5 linked regions of the Homo sapiens genome follow. The protein of the gene in region 5 purifies or fractionates together with the protein of the main gene of each other region. This does not show direct contact. Each region holds a gene or a part of one and is shown on either strand. Other genes may lie near its edges.

Evidence for each region.
Region 1: the proteins of PHLDB3 (region 5) and TUFT1 purify together in Homo sapiens (affinity purification with mass spectrometry, with the first as the bait; one large-scale study listed by BioGRID). This does not show direct contact.
Region 2: the proteins of PHLDB3 (region 5) and VPS50 purify together in Homo sapiens (affinity purification with mass spectrometry, with the first as the bait; one large-scale study listed by BioGRID). This does not show direct contact.
Region 3: the proteins of PHLDB3 (region 5) and BMAL1 purify together in Homo sapiens (affinity purification with mass spectrometry, with the first as the bait; one large-scale study listed by BioGRID). This does not show direct contact.
Region 4: the proteins of PHLDB3 (region 5) and RPRD1A purify together in Homo sapiens (affinity purification with mass spectrometry, with the first as the bait; one large-scale study listed by BioGRID). This does not show direct contact.

The regions. Positions count from the first base shown.
Region 1 is NC_000001.11:151,546,802-151,550,321, reverse strand, and holds part of TUFT1 (tuftelin), read right to left. Parts: intron 1-3,520. UniProt on the Homo sapiens protein: Involved in the structural organization of the epidermis. Involved in the mineralization and structural organization of enamel.
Region 2 is NC_000007.14:93,294,846-93,298,365, forward strand, and holds part of VPS50 (syndetin), read left to right. Parts: intron 1-1,896; coding exon 1,897-1,991; intron 1,992-2,299; coding exon 2,300-2,398; intron 2,399-3,520.
Region 3 is NC_000011.10:13,382,278-13,385,797, reverse strand, and holds part of BMAL1 (basic helix-loop-helix ARNT-like protein 1), read right to left. Parts: intron 1,319-3,520; exon of another isoform or gene 1,074-1,318; intron 110-1,073; coding exon 7-109; intron 1-6. UniProt on the Homo sapiens protein: Transcriptional activator which forms a core component of the circadian clock.
Region 4 is NC_000018.10:36,033,052-36,036,571, forward strand, and holds part of RPRD1A (regulation of nuclear pre-mRNA domain-containing protein 1A), read right to left. Parts: intron 787-3,520; coding exon 657-786; intron 1-656. UniProt on the Homo sapiens protein: Interacts with phosphorylated C-terminal heptapeptide repeat domain (CTD) of the largest RNA polymerase II subunit POLR2A, and participates in dephosphorylation of the CTD by RPAP2.
Region 5 is NC_000019.10:43,491,229-43,494,748, reverse strand, and holds part of PHLDB3 (pleckstrin homology-like domain family B member 3), read left to right. Parts: coding exon 1-47; intron 48-3,520.

The sequences.
Region 1 (3,520 bases), on a different chromosome or scaffold from region 5:
GTGGCTCACGCCTATAATCCCAGAACTTTGGGAGGCCAAAGCAGGTGGATCACCAGAGGTCAGGAGTTCAAGGCCAGCCTGGCCAACATGGTGAAACCCCGTCTCTACTAAAAATACAAAACACTGGCCAGGTGTGGTGGTGGGCACCTGTAATCCCAGTTGCCTGGGAGGCTGAGGCAGGAGAATCGCTTGAACCTGGGAGGCAGAGGCCCCAGGGAGATAAGGAGAGAGGTGCAGTGAGCCCTGTGACACTCCTATAATAAAACATATAAAGAGAAGGAAAGAAAAAGTACTAAACTTGGCTAGGCATGTTGGCTCACGCCTGTAATCCCAGCACTTTGGGAGGCCCAGGAGGGCAGATCACCTGAGTCCAGGAGTTTGAGACCAGCCTGGGCAACATAATGAGACCCTGTCTCTACAAAAAGTACAAAAATTAGCCTGGTGTGGTGGTGCACACCTGCAGTCCCAGCTACTAGGGAAGCTGAGGTGAGAGGATCAATTGAGCTCATAAGGTCAAGGCGGCAGTGAGCCAAGACTGTGCCATGCACTCCAACCCAGGTGACAGAGCGAGACTCTGTTTCAAAACAAAGTACTAAACTTGAAGTCAGAGGCAGGATGTCTGAGTCCTGATTGATGACCATTAATCCTTGAGCAAATCACTTAATCTCTCTGGGCCTCAGTTTTCTGTCTGTAAAATGAGGGTGATAATTTCACAACCGACATTTTAGGAAGAGTAGATAGATGTGCAAGAATGATGTAAAAGTGATTTGCAAACCATACATCTCTTCACAAGGGTGAAGCAGCATTACTTTCCCAAGTAGCTCTGGAAAGTCTGCAAGGGAAGAGGGTGGATGAGGTAAATTGTCTAATGGAGCTGATGAAAAACTTAGGGCTCTCTCTGGCACCTCATCCTCCAGAACTGGAGAATGCATCTTAGTCAGCAAGGCCACAGACCTCGGCCTGCACCCCCAACCCAGAGTCAAGGAGCAAATCCTGGGGCTCCTCTCTGCCTGGTGCACTTAGTTGTTTTCTAGAGCAGGCTTGCATTTCCTCAGGACTATGAGCAGGCTCCAGGGAGCTTTAGGAACACCCCAAAAATATCCGGCAGGGGGGTCTCTACTGGGTACTCTAAAAGGCAAGATGAGAAGTGGAGCCTTCTTCTCTAGGGAAAAAGGAGCAGTACTAATCACAAGGTAAGCAGCCTCTAACCTCATAAACATTTTTGGGAGAAGCCCAGCTACCTCCAAATTATAGGCAGCCTCACCACTCTGTTCAAACAAATCTCCAACCCTGACTCACTCCTCAAAGCAGGGAGGGGGTAAACACATAGCTGAGGGGTTAGAGATCAAGACGCCACAGCAGAGATAAGGAGATAAACAGGGAGGCCCCAGGGAAATAAGGAGAGAGGTGCAGAGTTCTCACACCACAGGCTCATGTGAATAGGGAAAAGCCTGCGTTCCCCCAGCTCTCACTCCCCAGGTTTTACAGGGGTCACTAGGACTGGGTAGGAGTCAAGTGTAAGGTTCTTTCTAAGAGGAAGTAAAGGAAGTGGAGATTGCCCCTGAGCTGGAAACCAGCAACCTTAATTCATCTTCACCCTGTATCCCACTCTTCCCTCACTTTGCCCCTCAATCCCACCCACTTTCCCACCCCAAGTGTACATGGCCTCTCAAGCTGCTGGAGGAGCAGTCACTTCAGTTTCCCCACTTTGAAAAATGGGAGGCTGGGCACGGAGGCTCAAGCCTGTAATCCCAGCACTTTGGGAGGCCAAGGCAGGCGAATCACGAGGTTAAGAGATTGAGATCATCCTGGCCAACAGGATGAAACCCCATCTCTACTAAAAATACAAAAATTAGCTGGGCGTGGTGGCGCACGCCTGTAGCTCCAGCTACTTGGGAGGCTGAGGCAGGAGAATCACTTGAACCTGGGAGGTGGAGGCTGCAGTGAGCCAAGATTGGGCCACTGTACTCCAGCCTGGTGACAGAGCAAGACTCCGTCTCAAAAAAAAAAAAAAAAGAAAAGAAAAAGAAAAAAGAAAAGTAGGAATAGCCAGCCCCTTGTAACAATGGCACCCAAGTGATCAGGATGAAGGAAGTCCCATAAACTCAAAGAACAGAGCCGGATGGGATAGGTGGGTACCTACCCTCTCTACCCTCTCCTTGAGTGAGGCTCGCACCCGACTCAGCTCATCAGTCTCAGGTACATGGTCCTGCCTTCTGCAGTGCTGCCTAGGCCAGAGATGGCCCTTTGTGGAGTATGACACAAAGAATCACTCCCTTTCTTCCTCCCCAGATTAGCCAACAAAACAGGTGTTTGATTTTTATGTGGCTGCCTACCCAGAGGCATGGGCTGGACAGGCACTATGTAGAGGGCTCACCAGGGTTACTGTGAGGTGAAATGAGAAAAAGGATTTGAGGTGGCACCCTACATGGGGCAGCCTTTCTCATTACTTGGAGCCCTAACAAAGGAAAACACTAGGGCCTAGCAGTGACAGTGTGTCTGTAGAGGGAAGTGAGCTCCTGAACCAACTCTGAAGGAGACACCCACTTGCTAAGCCAGTCTCACTCTAGGACACCTGCCTAGCGACCAGCAAACCTGGAATGAAAGGGCAAGTTCCTCAGTGCCCCCTCTGCATCAAAGGGAGTGGCTCTGCCCTCTCTAGTCTCTGACTACCTGCTTAGTGATTTTTGCTTCTGTGCTCCCAGACCCAAGAAAACCACGTCTCTTTTCTTCCTTCATCGACTCATCCCCTTCTTACCCTATATTGTCTCCTCCACTTCCTGCCTCTGCTGGCCAGGCTTAAATCTGGGCCACCAGCCTTCCTGGCACATACCTATTTCCGCAACTGAACCTTCCCAACCCCTAGAAAACAAAGGTATTTCACAAGCCTCTGCACCTTGACCCAAAGAGGCATGCACCATAATTACTAGCAGGCAAGGAAGCTCATCCCACCTCTCTGAGCACACGTGTCTGGAACTGAAACCATCTGGGTGCACGCCCCCCTCCACCCTGGAGAACTATGGGCAAATGTTAGTGCCAAATGCCTGATGATGAGGTAACTCTCCTCGCTCAGAGGAGATCCCTCCTTCTCTGGCAAAGCCCAGCATTCCCCAAATTCCTGGCAGCCTTGGTGACATCAGAAAAATGCAGTGCTCCTGAAAGTAAGAACCTGGCAATAAATGGGAGAGATGGGATGGTGTGAGGAGAAATTTATGGGCTGAGTTTAGGACAAGTTTCATGAGTAGAAGGAACAGGCAGCCACCAAACTTGAAAGGCTCCTCTGCCCAGCAGTTTTTCCCCACACTCAGATGTCACAGAACCAGGACTTCCACATTTTAGAATACATTCAGTCCTCTGGAGTAAGCAGCAATGGCTACAGATGAATCCTCCTTTAAAATGCAAATATTCTGACCCAGCAATCCCACTCCTAGGTATTCCTCTCCAAGAGAAATGAAAATATATTTCCACACAAAAACTTGTACACCAAAGTTCGTAGCAGCATTATAAATGATAGCCAAAA
Region 2 (3,520 bases), on a different chromosome or scaffold from region 5:
GGAAATATTCATACATGTCTTGAGTACATCTTTTGTTTTAGAGGCCTAGCAAATTTCCACTATCATAGAGAAATGTATGCTTTCTCAGTGAGATGTTCTGTTTATTATTTCATTTATCTGTGTTTTCTTAATTTTTTTTTCTGTTAATTTTAGAAAAGGAGTAACTAAGTAGATAGCATACTTAGGTCAGATTATAGTTTAGAATGAATAATTCTTTTTTTCTCAGTCAATGATCTTTGTACCTTGAGGGAATCTTACATGCTTATTGGCTGAATATATCTGGTTTTAGTCCATTTGGGCTCCTATAACAAAATATTCTAGACTGCATAGTTTATAAACAGAGAAGTTTATTTCTTAGAATTCTAAAGGCTGGAAGTCAGAGATCAGGGTGCCAGCATTGTTGGGAGGGAGGGCCTGCTTCCTGGTTCATAGACATTGTCTTGCTGTATCCTCAAATAGTGGAAGGGATGAAGGAGCTCTCTGGGGTCCCTTCTATAGGGGAACTAATCTAATTAATGAGGGCTCTACCTTCACGATTTAATCATCTCACAAAGGCCCCACCTTCTAATATATTATCACCTTGGAGGTTAGAATTTCAGCTTCGGAATTTTGGGTAGACATGAACATTCAGACCATAGCAGTATCTTATTAAGTTTTTCTTTACAATTTAGTAACTCAGTTGTTGTAATCAGATAATTTGTTACTTCTTAGATCACAGTGTAATTTCTTTGAAGATAACTTACTCTTTTTGGACTTCTTTGAACCTTGGAAGACTATAGACCCTTTGGCCATGTTATGGTCTTTTAAAATGTATTTTTGATTTTTCTAATGAGGCTGATCTTTATTTTGACCATCTTTTTTTTTCTTTCTTTCTTTTGATTGATTGATTGATTGATTGAGACAGGGTCTCACTCTGTCACCCAGGCTGGAGTGTGGTGGCAGAGTCATGGCCCAGTGCAGCCTCGACCTCTTGGGCTCAGGTGATCCTTCTGCCTCAGCCTCCTGAGTAGCTGGGACCACAGATGTGCACCACCATGCCTAATTTTCTTAAATTATTATTGGTGGATATGGGGTCTTGCTATGTTGCCCAGACTGGTCTTGAACTCCTGGGCCCAAGTGATATTCCTGCCTTGGCCTCCCAAAGTGCTGGGATTACAGGCATCAGCCACCATGCCCAGCTTGACCATCTTTTATAGGATATGTTTTGAAAAAAATTGTTTAGGAAAATATATTTTGAAAACATAAATTTCTTCATGAATCAGTTAATATTTATAATTTAGTGCTCTTCTAATTTTTGATAATTTTGTATTCGATATGCTATTTGATTTTATGCTTTAGTATTTAAAATTTATTTTTGTGGTTGTAAGAGGTTTGACATATATTTTCTCATTTGTCTATATTAAACTCATAACCATATTAAACATTTATTAAAATTAAATATTTAATTTATCATTAATTGTGGATTTAGGCTGACTGTTTTCTGAGTATTATGCATAAAAAGAAAGGAAAATCTTATAGTTATTGAATATACACCCAGGATCAGATATGATTTGTTTCTGACTTAGTCTCCCAATAGGCCTTAAGTGTACTTTGGTAAAATTTTACAATCTATGATAGAATTTCTGGTAATTCAGTGTACTTTGAAATACTGACTTAGCACTTTATGTAGCTACTTTCCATTCAGTTTGGCAACCTGATGGCATTCCTGGTATAGGAAATGGGATTGTCTCTATTACATCCCTTAAGGATGTTGGCTATTGGCCTAAATAGATATTCGTTAACAAATTAGGAATATATTCCTGTCTCATTTTAATCTGGAACTATAGAGTAAATGCTTCTGATAACTTATTTTCTATATTTTGGGTTTGCTTGATTTTCTTTTTCTTTGCCTTACAGGATGTTCAGCTAAAAGTAAAAACCTACTTGCTTGGAACTGATTTGTCTATATTCAAATATGATGATTTCATCTTTGTTTTGGATATAATCAGCAGGTAGTATTTAAGATCTTGTCTTATTCTTTAGTTTGAGTCATTCAACCATGATAAATCATGAGCTAGTGAGTTATCATCTATAACTTCTTTATGGAAATGAAGATAATTTTTGCTGCTAAGTTTGTGAGTGTATTTAAATATTTCTGCCCTTTGGGTGTTTGTAAACCTTTATGGATTTGTGATCTTTAGAATTTTTTCACATGTCCAAATTTTAGTGATTTTTTTTATCTTTGAAGAAAGAGAAACCACACTTCTTTTTCTCTATAAGGCTGCTGCTGAAATTTACTGAAACCTTTTTATCCAACTAGGTTGATGCAAGTTGGAGAAGAATTTTGTGGTAGCAAGTCTGAAGTTTTACAGGAATCTATTAGAAAACAAAGTGTCAATTATTTCAAGAATTACCATAGGTAAGAACTCTAATAAGATATGAATCGACTTATTTAGGTAATGAGAATACTTTTGTCTAATACTTAATCTTATAGCATTAATTGATTTTAAACAATTACTTTTGAATTTGAATGTGTTGTAGCTTTTTTAAGATGGTTAAGGATTTTTTTAACCAAAATATGATGAAATGTTCTCATTACATATTCATTGTACATTTTAATATATTTTTGTCTTGAGGGGCTTAAAATATTGAACTGATTTTTTAATGAGTAAAACATGATTATTATATCAAGGTTCACAGAAAGAATTTGGCCACTGTTCCATACCTGCATACATATGGGTGTGCTTATAAGGAAGTTAAATCAGTAGAGGCAGTGCTCAGTGAGGGGGTGCTTGAGAGTATCTATCTTTTAAATGTAAGAAGGATTCTAGAGGAGAGGATGTGATATTCAGAATTCCCCTATAAATCCAAATTTGTATACTGCATTGCTTTGCAAAACAATCACTGCTAATATTTAAAAGAGTGACTAGGAATGGTTTGGGTAGTGGAGGAAGGTGGGAAAGAATGTTTATAATAGCAGTGTGATTATATCCTTACAGCAGCAATAAATTGAGGGAAGGGAGAGCTAACATGAGATTTCTCTTGATATAAGCTAGACCCCAAGTTGTATCCCTTTTGTCCTTTGAGTTGAGTTTCATCTTACTTTTTATTCTGAACTTTTACTTTTTACAATTGAATTTAAGTTTTGATTTCCTTGTTATTTGGTCCCAGAGAGAGTCATGATTTGAAATTCTGCTTTTTCTCCTTGTTCATAGTCAACACCTGCTCACAGTGATATATGCCATGTCAAAAGAGAGATGACTGAACACCAAACCATTGATTAATTAATTATTATATATATTTGAATACAAGTTATCTCTGTTAATTGTAAACAATGAAGTAAATTGTTTGAAAAAGATTTAAATTGAACTATACTAAAGCAGAGCCTTTGAGTTTCATGACTGAGAATGTTTAAAAATTTTTTAAAAATTTAATTGACTAAACCTCAGGGAAACAGTGGGAAGGGACCAACAGGAAGCCCTAACACTGCCTTTATTTATAAGTTCCTTGTCTGCTAAAACTTAAGCCCTGACTAAAACAA
Region 3 (3,520 bases), on a different chromosome or scaffold from region 5:
ACTTACCAAGAATAGAAGAACTATCAGAATATGGATAACCTGGGTTCTCCTGAGCCTGGCCTGATAGTAGGCCACTGGAAGGAATGTCTGGAGTCCCTCCATTTAAAATCTACAAACAAAAGGAGGGAAGTGTGAAGTTTGAATCAGTATTATGAGCAATGCCAAAAGGAAAATGAAGCATGGGGTGGGGTGGGGAGAAGCTTCAAATGGCTTCAGTTTTCTATTGGATGATTTCAAACAAGGAACTGTTAGACAGACATGGTCAGAGTAAGAAAAAACCTCTCCCCCGAACTATTCTTTTCTCTCCATTTTAGTGAGCCCACAGAGGCAACTTAAAGGCTGAATAAAATCCCAAGAGCATTCAACTGCCTGGAATCATGATGCCCACATATTTCTTTAGGACCAATGCCTAAACTTCAATGAGCCCAGCTAGACGTTTCCCCTATAAGGGAATAAAACATCTTATAGTGACAGATATTTCTGAAGAAGAAAAAGTGGAGTTAACAAGCTGTGAAGAGACACAGCTCAAGGAGTCAAATGAAGAAAACAGAAGTAAATCTCTTATACTACAGGTGCCAACTTCAGTAACCTGTGGTTTAAGTTAAGACAGGCTACTGGGGAGGATTATTACTACTACTCAGTAAGAGAACTCTGTCTCAAAATCTCCCCCACTCACCCCAGCTGCCTTCCCCTGGCTGAGTCTCAAAGAAGAGCATTCTTTGAGACCTATCTGGATATACGTGAGGAAACAGTTTGGTAGCTGCTGCTTTCAGGAGCAGCAATGATTTCAGGCTTTGCCAGCAGGTGGCATTATAACTTACTTTATTTCCACAGCAACGTTTTGGTCTAGGGACCCTTTTACACTCTTAAAAAAATCATTGAGGACTCCAAAGAACTTTTGCTTATGTAGGCTGTATTTATCAATATTTACTGTATTTGAAATTAAAACTAATAGATTTCTTAAATGTAATAAACCCGCTACATGTTAACATAAATAATGAATAGTATTTTAATGAAAAATAACTATTTTCTAAAACAGTAACAAAAAATTACCAGGCAGAGTATTATCTTACATTTTTGCAAATCTAATGTCTGGCTTAATAATTTTCAACTGGATTCTCATATATGTTTTTCCATTCAGTCTATTTAGATACGTCTTGTGATTCAAGTATATGAAGGAAATCCAACCTCCCACAGATAAGTAGTTGGAAAAGGGAGGCATATTTTAATAGACTTTTCAAATAATTGTATTCTTTTTTGATACCACTTCAAAACTTGACACGTAGAAGTTTCTTAAAGGTGAGTTGCAATGTGGAATCTGAAACCATATCAATGAATGTTTTGTACTCTTTATATCTTGGCACTTAGGATGGATCTTTTACCCTTACATGATTTTGAAATACCTTGCATTGTTTAGTTACAAAATATTGGTTCACTGAGTTATGCAGATCTTCTATATATTGACACATTTCATTATAGAGCATCAAAATATCACTATTATTAATACTCCCTATCTCATCAACAACATTTTTTAAGTTTTAGGAAGATCTCAAGGTCAAAGTAGCAGAGACAAGTTTTCTAAAAATTCCAATTTTTGCTTGAAAGCTCAGATTTTATCATTGGCAACAAATGTCAGTCATTTTCCTTAAAGTGACAGGTTCACTTCATTCATTTCCAAAAAAAAAGTATTCTAAATACCCAAAACCGAATGACCATATACAATAAAAATGGTGTCCAATGAAAATAGTAGCTAGTTCAACTCACAACTTAATCACACAAGTAGTTTTTGAGACAAACATCATACTTTGGTATGCAGCACAAGTTCTGTGTACTTCTCATTTTGTCACAGAGCATTAAAAAGATGTGTGCTTGAGAATTTTATAAAAGTAATGATGGACATTTTCCCTCCCTCCCTCACTCCCTTCCTTCCTTTCCTCCTTCCCTCCTTGATAGGGTCTCACTCTGGTTGCCCAGGCTGGAGTACAGTGGCACAATCTCAGCTCACTGCAGCCTCAACCTCCTGGGCTCAGGTGATTCTCCCACCTCAGTCCCCGGAGTAGCTGGGATTACAGGTACACCACCACACCTGGATAATTTTTTTTGTATTTTTTAGTAGAGATGGGATTTCTCTATGTTGCCCAGACTTGCCTGGAACTGCTGGACTCAAGCAGTTTGCCTGCCTCAGCTTCCCAGAGTGCTGAGATTACAGGGGTGAGCCACTGCACCTAGCCATGATGGACAATCTTAAATGAAACTGGCTTTAAACTATTTTTTTACTGTGAGTGTGTGGTGGTGAAGAATACAATGACTACTAGTATAGTTTGGTGCCACTTGTCTGATTTTTGTAAAATGCCAGCAATTTTACCCAACCGTGCTTTTAGTATGAATAGTGCACATTATCAATACAGGGAAAAAATTAACGTTTTAATGTTATTAAGAAAATAGCTTTAACCTTGCAGACCCTTAAAAGGATCTTGTGCCCCCTCTCTTTCTGGAAAAAGACTGCAGATGACATTTGTAGAACTGCTGCTTTATCTGAATTTTCCTTAGTGCTTCTGGATGTCTGTACTCTCTTGCGACCTATGGAGGCTCACTTAGGCTTCCTTTTTAGCTTGATCCTGACAAACAACTGCAGGCTAAATGGTTCATTTTTGGACCTTCCAAATTTGAAAGTGACTGGAAAGGGCTGGGTATGGTGCACCATTTAATACTGCTGTCAGTTTTAACTGTCTTGTTTAAGCTGCTTTTCTTATAAGTCCTGCTGCCCAGGACTCATCTCGTGAGAACACATCCAAATTTCTTCTCACAGATCCATTTTATAATCCATTCTTCTCAAAGAAAAGGGAGAATTTTCATAAGTGCCTCAAAAATAGCTGGGGCTTTATGATGCAGAGCACAGCTTTTGATTTCTGGTAGTTGTTGATGTGAAAAGAATTGGAAGCCATGAGCCCAGGATTGTAGCCTGGGGGCCATACTTATAAAACGAACGCTGAGGAGCCTGGATCTTGTCACTATAATGTTGTGAAGGTGAGATGAGACAATGTATATGAAAGTTCTTTGAGTAATATTTAAGCCTATACTGGACTGATAACCTTTCAAAACCAAGAAGTAGAATCCTTGGTAATACCAGGAGTCAAGTCAAGTGCCTAAAAGTTAACTTAAGAAGCAGAGACTGGAAGACCACCCTAAGAAGATGGTGGATCCAATATGCAGGAAGGACCTGGAGGTATAACAGAAGAACAGCTAAGAAGACAGCTGGCAAGCAGTGTGTGTGTTGTGGGCAGGGGGGCGGGGGTCACGGGACACCAAGCTCAGACTTCATCTGTCAGTGGTATTTTGGGCCAAGCACTTTCACATATATTATCTCACAGTAGGACCTCGTGCAAAGATGCTGGCTACCCTAACCATTATTAGCTCCATTATAAAGAAAACTAGGGCTTGAAAGTTGTACAAGTTCACATAACTAGCACATGGCAAGGCCAAGCTTCGAACCCAGGTCTTACTTTGTAGTCTTACCCAT
Region 4 (3,520 bases), on a different chromosome or scaffold from region 5:
CCAGCACTTTGGGAGGCCGAGGCAGGTGGATCACGAGGTCAGGAGTTCAAGACCAGCCTGGCCAAGATGGTGAAACCTTGTCTCTACTAAAAACACAAAAATTAGCCAGGCATGGTGGCAGGCACCTGTAATTCCAGCTACTTGCGAGGCTGAAGTAGGAGAATCGCTTGAACCCAAGCGGCAGAGGTTGCAGTGAGCCAAGATCGCACCACTGTACTCCAGCCTGGGTGAGAGTGAGACTCTGTCTCAAAAAAAAAAAAAAAAAAAAAAAAAAGAATAGAAACAGTACTAAGTGTATATGGAAATATTTGTTACAAGACTGATAGCTTTATAAACACACAAATTTTTACTTCAATACCTTCATTCATTTTTAATGAAGTTCATTCCAATATAGCAGTTGGTTCTGGTCTCTTAAAGGAAAGCTGTAATTCAAGTACTCCAAAGGCCCACCTTAGCAACAGTTCAAAAAATATTTTTCCTTCAGAGAAGGCATTTAATACATTTATAAATGCCATGTAGAGGGAAGTCTTTTCAAATAAAAGCATCAAAAAACTATATTCCCTACTTTTTATTTTAATAGTTTAAGGCAAATTTTAGCAAAAGGACATATGGTACATTTAAAACAGATTACCTAATACCCAAAACTATGATCATACCTTGAAACATGCTTAAAAGCCTCCACTATAACTGGTGCAAAATCTTTTGTAAACTCTGGCCCCTTCCTCTTGCTGTTCTGTATGACATCATTGGCTAGGTAGAGAAAAGTAAGCTTCCTGTTTGGTTTGGCTGAAAAATAAGAAAAAGTTAAAAATCTACTTAAAACATCTTTACTTGGACAAACTTTCTCAATACCTAAATTAAGCATTTTGAGAACTAAAATAACCCTACTAACCTTTATGTATCATTTCAACCCTAGTCTCTCATTTTACTACCAAACTAACCAGTCACTGCTGCTAAAATCGCCAGAACTAATGTCTATGTAAAAATGCATCTCGGTGACTCTATCCTGTATTAAATTTTAGTAAAACCATTACAAACTATATGAAATATAGTCATTTAAAATAAGATGGTGATTGCTCATGTTATTAAGATGGCACCCTAAATCCTACATTGAATTTAGGATTGTTTTAATAGACATGTTAATTCGAAATCATTATTAAGCTATTGTGAAACAACAGAAGAGCATGAAATGTAAAACAGGTTGAAAGAGATGTCCCTTCAATCAATTACTATTTTTTGTTTATGCAATAAATATTTGCCAAGCTAATAGATTAACTGCTAGGGAGAGTAAATGGGAAAAGTTTAGATGTTTCTGTCTTTAGATTACATGGCCATAAATTTTAAACTGAATTCATTATGACAAAAATATTCCCCTACTCACTATGCTCTGTGGGTGTAGTCATTTCTCTAAGGAAATAGACAAGATTTCAACAGTTGTGGGCCACAGTACATTTTTACTGGTTACAATGTTAAATAGCATACTACTACTGAATATGACTCAAATAAGATTATACATAAGGAAAACAGTGTTGAACATAATATTTTATACTATTCTTATATTTTACTAGAATTAAATTTGAATCACTCAATGTAGTACAGTTATATTCAGAAGCATCATACCTTGTGGCATCCATAGTACAGTGGTGTAGGAAACTTATGGTCAGGACCAATTATGCAGTATCCTATTGATGTGGGCTATCTTATTGGATTTAAGACAAAAATCTTGATCAGGCTACATGTGGTCCTCTAGATGTTAAGTATTCAATTTACAAATTTAAGCATTTGACATATTAAAAAGTCACCTCTGAGTTCACATCATTCTCGAGGAGCAACCAGAAGCCCAACCTTCTCATATACTAAGTCACAACTGATCAAACTTTACAAACCTGTGCCATGCCACTGTATAACCTGGTTTGTCTGTTTAAATTGCTGTCTACCACTTTTCATGATTTTGCAAGTTGCTGGCATGGAATAAAAATAAGAAGAGATGGCTATAACAGAGACCAGCTTCTGGTTTTCAGGCTCCTTGTCTGGTTAGATAAACCACAGTGTACAACTGGTTAAGATATCGGGACCCTATCCTAACATTCAGTCCTGTCTCTTTTGTACCCATCCTTGCCCTCTCAATCCCACCCACAAAATAGATTGGTATTGTTCAATCCAGATTTTTGCCTTCCCAGTGTCAAATGAGTTTAGAAACTCAAATTTGTATTATCTAATTGGGAGATTGCCTGCATCACTTTTGAATGGGTACCTGAACAAACAATCCTTTCACTGCACTTTTACTATGTGCTACACACTATTCCAAGCACTTTACATACATTATCTCAATCCTAACAATATGTCTCTATTTGGCAGCTGAACAAACAAAGCCAAAAACATTATTTGCCCTCAGGGAAATAATGAGGAAGAGATAAGCCAGGATTGGAATCCAAAAAGTCCAACAGCCAAGCAAATCCCTCTTAACAACTAGACCATGCTTCCTGTCATAATTAAAAGGGCATGTTAATCTTTGAGACTCAAAAGTAGCAACTGAAAAGAAGAAAAAGATAAAACAATGCAAAACAAAAAGTAGCAACTGAAATAAAAATATTTTACAATGTTAGCAGCATTATTCACAATAGCCAAGAGTTAAGAGCAACCTAACCCACTGATCAATGAATAAACAAAATGTGAATTATATATTCAATAAAGTATTATTCAGCCTTATAGAAGAAGGAAATGTTGACGCATGTTACAACATGGATGAATCTCCAGGACATCATGCCAGGTGAAATAATCGAGTCATGAAAAAAGACAAACCACTGTATGATTCTACTTATTGGAGGTACTCAAATTCATAGAAAAAAAGAGTAGAAGGATAGTTGCCAAAGGCTGTGGGAATGGGAGGAGAATAGGAAATTATTCATGGGTACAGAGTCTCAGTTTTGCAAAATGAACAGTTCTGGAAACTGGCTACACAACAATGTACTTAACACTACTGGACTGTACACGGAAAAAATGAAGATGGTAAATAATATTTATTACCACAAAAACAAAAAAAATGTTTTTGTTTTTTTTGTTTGAGACAAGTTCTGTCTCCCAGACTAAAGGCTCACTGCAGCCTCGACCTCCTGGGCTCTAGCAATCCTCCTGCCTCAGCTTCCAAGTAGCTGGAACCACAGGCACACGCCACCATGCCTGGCTAATTTTTTAAATTTTTTGTAGAGATAAGGTCTTACTTTGTTGCCCAGGCTGGTCTTGAACTCCTGAGCTCAAGTGACCCTCCCACCTAGGCCTCCCAAAGTGCTGGGATTACTGGTGTGAGCCACTGTGCCTGGCCCTAGAATGTTTTTTAAATTCATGGGTTATATCAATCTCTCAAAGAATTCAGAATTGCTTTTACAATATACACTAAAATAAAAATTTACAAGATTTAAAAATATATTTACCAGTGTTTTCCAAAGGACAAATTCCATATGAGGTGATTGAGCATGGGGTCCAAATACCAAGATACTATTTTCACTTTTATCTTTGTAGG
Region 5 (3,520 bases):
CCACCCCTACTTCTTCCTGCCTCTTTTCTGTCCACAGCTCCCTGCAGGTGCCTCCCCCACGGCCTCTGTTTCCCCATATATCTTATTGGTCAGTGAGGAGGGAGGGGCTAACAGCAGAGTCCCCGAACTGGGGTCTCCAGAACTTCCACTCTGATTTTCTGTATGGGGCCGGTGGGGGATAGGGAAGGTTGGCCAAGGGTTATTCCTATGACTCCAGCTTTATTATTGTTATTTTTTTTCTGTGTAACACCCACCCCTGCCCTGGCGAAATGGGAACATGTGCACCCAGGAGTAGATTTTAAAAGCAACCAAACAGCATATTTTAATAAGGTCTCCCCTTCTCAGAAGTAACGCAGCTACTTGTGTTTTGAGAATCCTTCTAGACTTCCTTAAAACTGCGGGGGTGGTGGGGGGGCAGCTCATTTATAGTTAAAACAGGCGCCCAGCATGGTGGCTCATGCCTGTAATCCCAGCACTTTGGGAGGCCAAGGCAAGCGGATGACCTGAGGTCAGGAGTTCGAGACCAGCCTGGCCAATATGGTGAAACCCCATCTCTACTAAAAATACAAAAATTAGCCAGGCATGGTGATGCAGGGCTGAGGCACGAGAATTACTTGAACCTGAGAAGGCAGAGGTTGCAGTGAGCCGAGATTATGCCACTGTACTCCAGCCTAGGCGACAGAGTGAGACTTTGTCTCAAAAAACAAACAAAAAAAATCCCTAATCCAAAATGCTCAAAAATCTGAAACTCTTTGAGTGCCTACATGATACTCCAAGGAAATGCACATTGGAGCAGTTTGGGTTTCAGAGTTTTAGGTTAGGGATGCTCAACCCAAATATTCCAAAATCTGAAAAAAAATCCCAAATCTGAAACCCTTCTGGTCCCAAGTATTTTGGAGAAGGGATATTCAACCTGTCCTTCTGAAAAATGTGTATATTAGCTACTAGTTGGCTTTTCTTTTTAAAAATGATATATTTGGGACATATTTATGGGGTACATATGCTATTACATGCATAGAATGTGTAATAAGTCAGGGTATTGGGGTATCTATCACCTCAAGTATTTATCATTTCTGTGTGTTGAGAACATTTCAAGTCCTCTTCTAGCTTTTTTTTTTTGACAGAGTCTCACTCTGTTGCCCAGGCTAGAGTGCAATGGTGGGATCACAGCTCACTGCAGCCTCAACCTCCCAGGCTCAGGTGATCCTCCTTGAGTAGCTGGGACCACAGGCATGCACCACACACCACCATACACAGCTGATTTTTGAAGTTATTTTTGTAGAGTTGGGGTCTTCCTTTTGCCCAAGCTGGTCTTGAACCCTTAGGCTCAAATGGTCCTCTTGTTTTAGCCTCCCAAATTGCTGGGATTACAGGCATGAGCCACCGCGCATGGGTCCAATTTGTAGAGATAGGGTCTCACTGGCTTTTATTTTATTTATTTATTTATTTATTTATTTATTTATTTATTCTGAGACAGAGTTTCACTCTTATTGCCAGGCTGGAGTGCAATGGTGCGATCTCAACTCACTGCAACCTCCGCCTCCTGGGTTCAAGCGATTCTCCAGCCTCAGCCTCCTGAGTAGCTGGGATTACAGGCATGCGCCACCAAGCCTGGCTAATTTTTGTATTTTTAGTAGAGATGGGGTTTTGCCATGTTGGCCAGGCTGGTCTCGAACTCCTGACCTCAGGTGATCTGCCCACCTTGGCCTCCCAAAGTGCTGGGATTACAGGTGTGAGCCACTGTGCCTGGCCCACTGGTTTTTATTTTTTAACTTAACTCTATCTTGGAGATTGTTTTACATTGATACATTTACAGTTGCCTCATTTTTAATGACTTTACAATAATAATAATAATAACATTAACAATAGCAATAATAATAACAATGGTTTTATTGAGTCATTATAGTGTGCAAGGCATGGTTACAAATGCTTCATGCTGATTGGCTTACTGATTTGTCTTTGCAACAAATCTGTGAGCTAGGTTCTTGTTTCCATGTTATAGGCAAAAACACCAAGAGAGGTTAAGTTGTTTAACCAGCTAGTATGTGGCAGAGCTGGGATTTGAACCCAGGTACTCTGTTTTCAGAACTTAGGTTCTTTTTTCCTTTTTTTTTTTTTTTTTTTGAGATAGGGTCTGGCTCTGTCACCCAGGCCAGAGTGCAGTGACACGATCTGCCTCCCAGGCTCAAGCCATCCTGCAGTTTAAGCAATACTGTTAAGAATACCAGTGTGTGGGCTGGGCTTGGTGGCTCATGCCTGTAACCCCAGCATTTTGGGAGGCTGAGGCAGATGGATCACCTGAGGTCAGGAGTTCCAGACCTGGGCGACAGAGTGAGACTTTGTCTTAAAAATAAATAAATAATAACAGTGTGCGTCAGCTCATGCCTGTAATCCAGCACTTTGAGAGGCCGAGGTGGGTGGATCCCTTGAGGACAGGAGTTCAAGACCAGCCTGGCCAACTTGGTGAAACCCCATCTCTACTAAAAATACAAAAAATTGGCTGGGCGCGGTGGCTCACACCTGTAATCCCAGCACTTTGGGAGGCGGAGACAGGCGGAGCACGAGGTCAGGAGTTCGAGACCAGCCTGGCCAACATGGTGAAACCCCGTCTCTACTAAAAATACAAAAATTAGCCGGGTGTGGTGCATGCCTGTAGTCACAGCTACTTGGGAGGCTGAGACAGAAGAATCGCTTGAACCCGGAAGGCGGAGGTTGCAGTGAGCCGAGATCATGCCACTGCTCTCCAGCCTGGGTGACAGAGCGAGACTCTGTCTCAAAAAAAAAAAAAACAAAAAAAAAAAAACGGCCAGGTGCAGTGGCTCACGCTGGTAATCCTAGCACTTTGGGAGGCAGAGGCAGGCAGGTCATAAGGTCAGGAGATCGAGACCAGCCTGGCTAACATGGTGAAACCCTGTCTCTACTAAAAATACAACAAATTAGCCTAGTCCCAGCTACTCAGGAGGCTTTGGCAGGAGAATTGCTTGAACCTGGGAGGCGGAGGTTGCAGTGAGCTGAGATCATGCCACTGCACTCCAGCCTGGGCAACAGAGCGAGACCTTGTCTCAAAAAAAAAAAAAAAATTAGCTGGGTGTGCTGGTGCGTGCCTATAATCCCAGTTACTCGGGAGGCTGAGGCAGGAGAATAGTTTGAACCCAGGAGATGGAGGTTTCGGTGAGCTAAGGTCGCACCACTGCATGACAGCCTGGGCAACAGAGCGAGACTCCATCTTAAAAAAAAAAAATCTTGTTATTTATTAATCAATATTAATAACACTAATTTTAAAGCACTTAATATAGGTCAGGGTCTGTTCTAAACCATTTTATCACTTTGAATCTTATGGAATTGCTAATATTTGGAGGCAAGAAACAGTCGTATACTGGCAATTCCCCTGGCTCAACCTAATATATAAAATTTCATTTTTTCTTGGGAAGAACCCTCACAAGCAGGTTCCGTTATTATTTGGGTGAAGGGTTAGCAGATGTTCTTCTGTATGGGAAATTAACTTTCTGGCTGCTTCCCC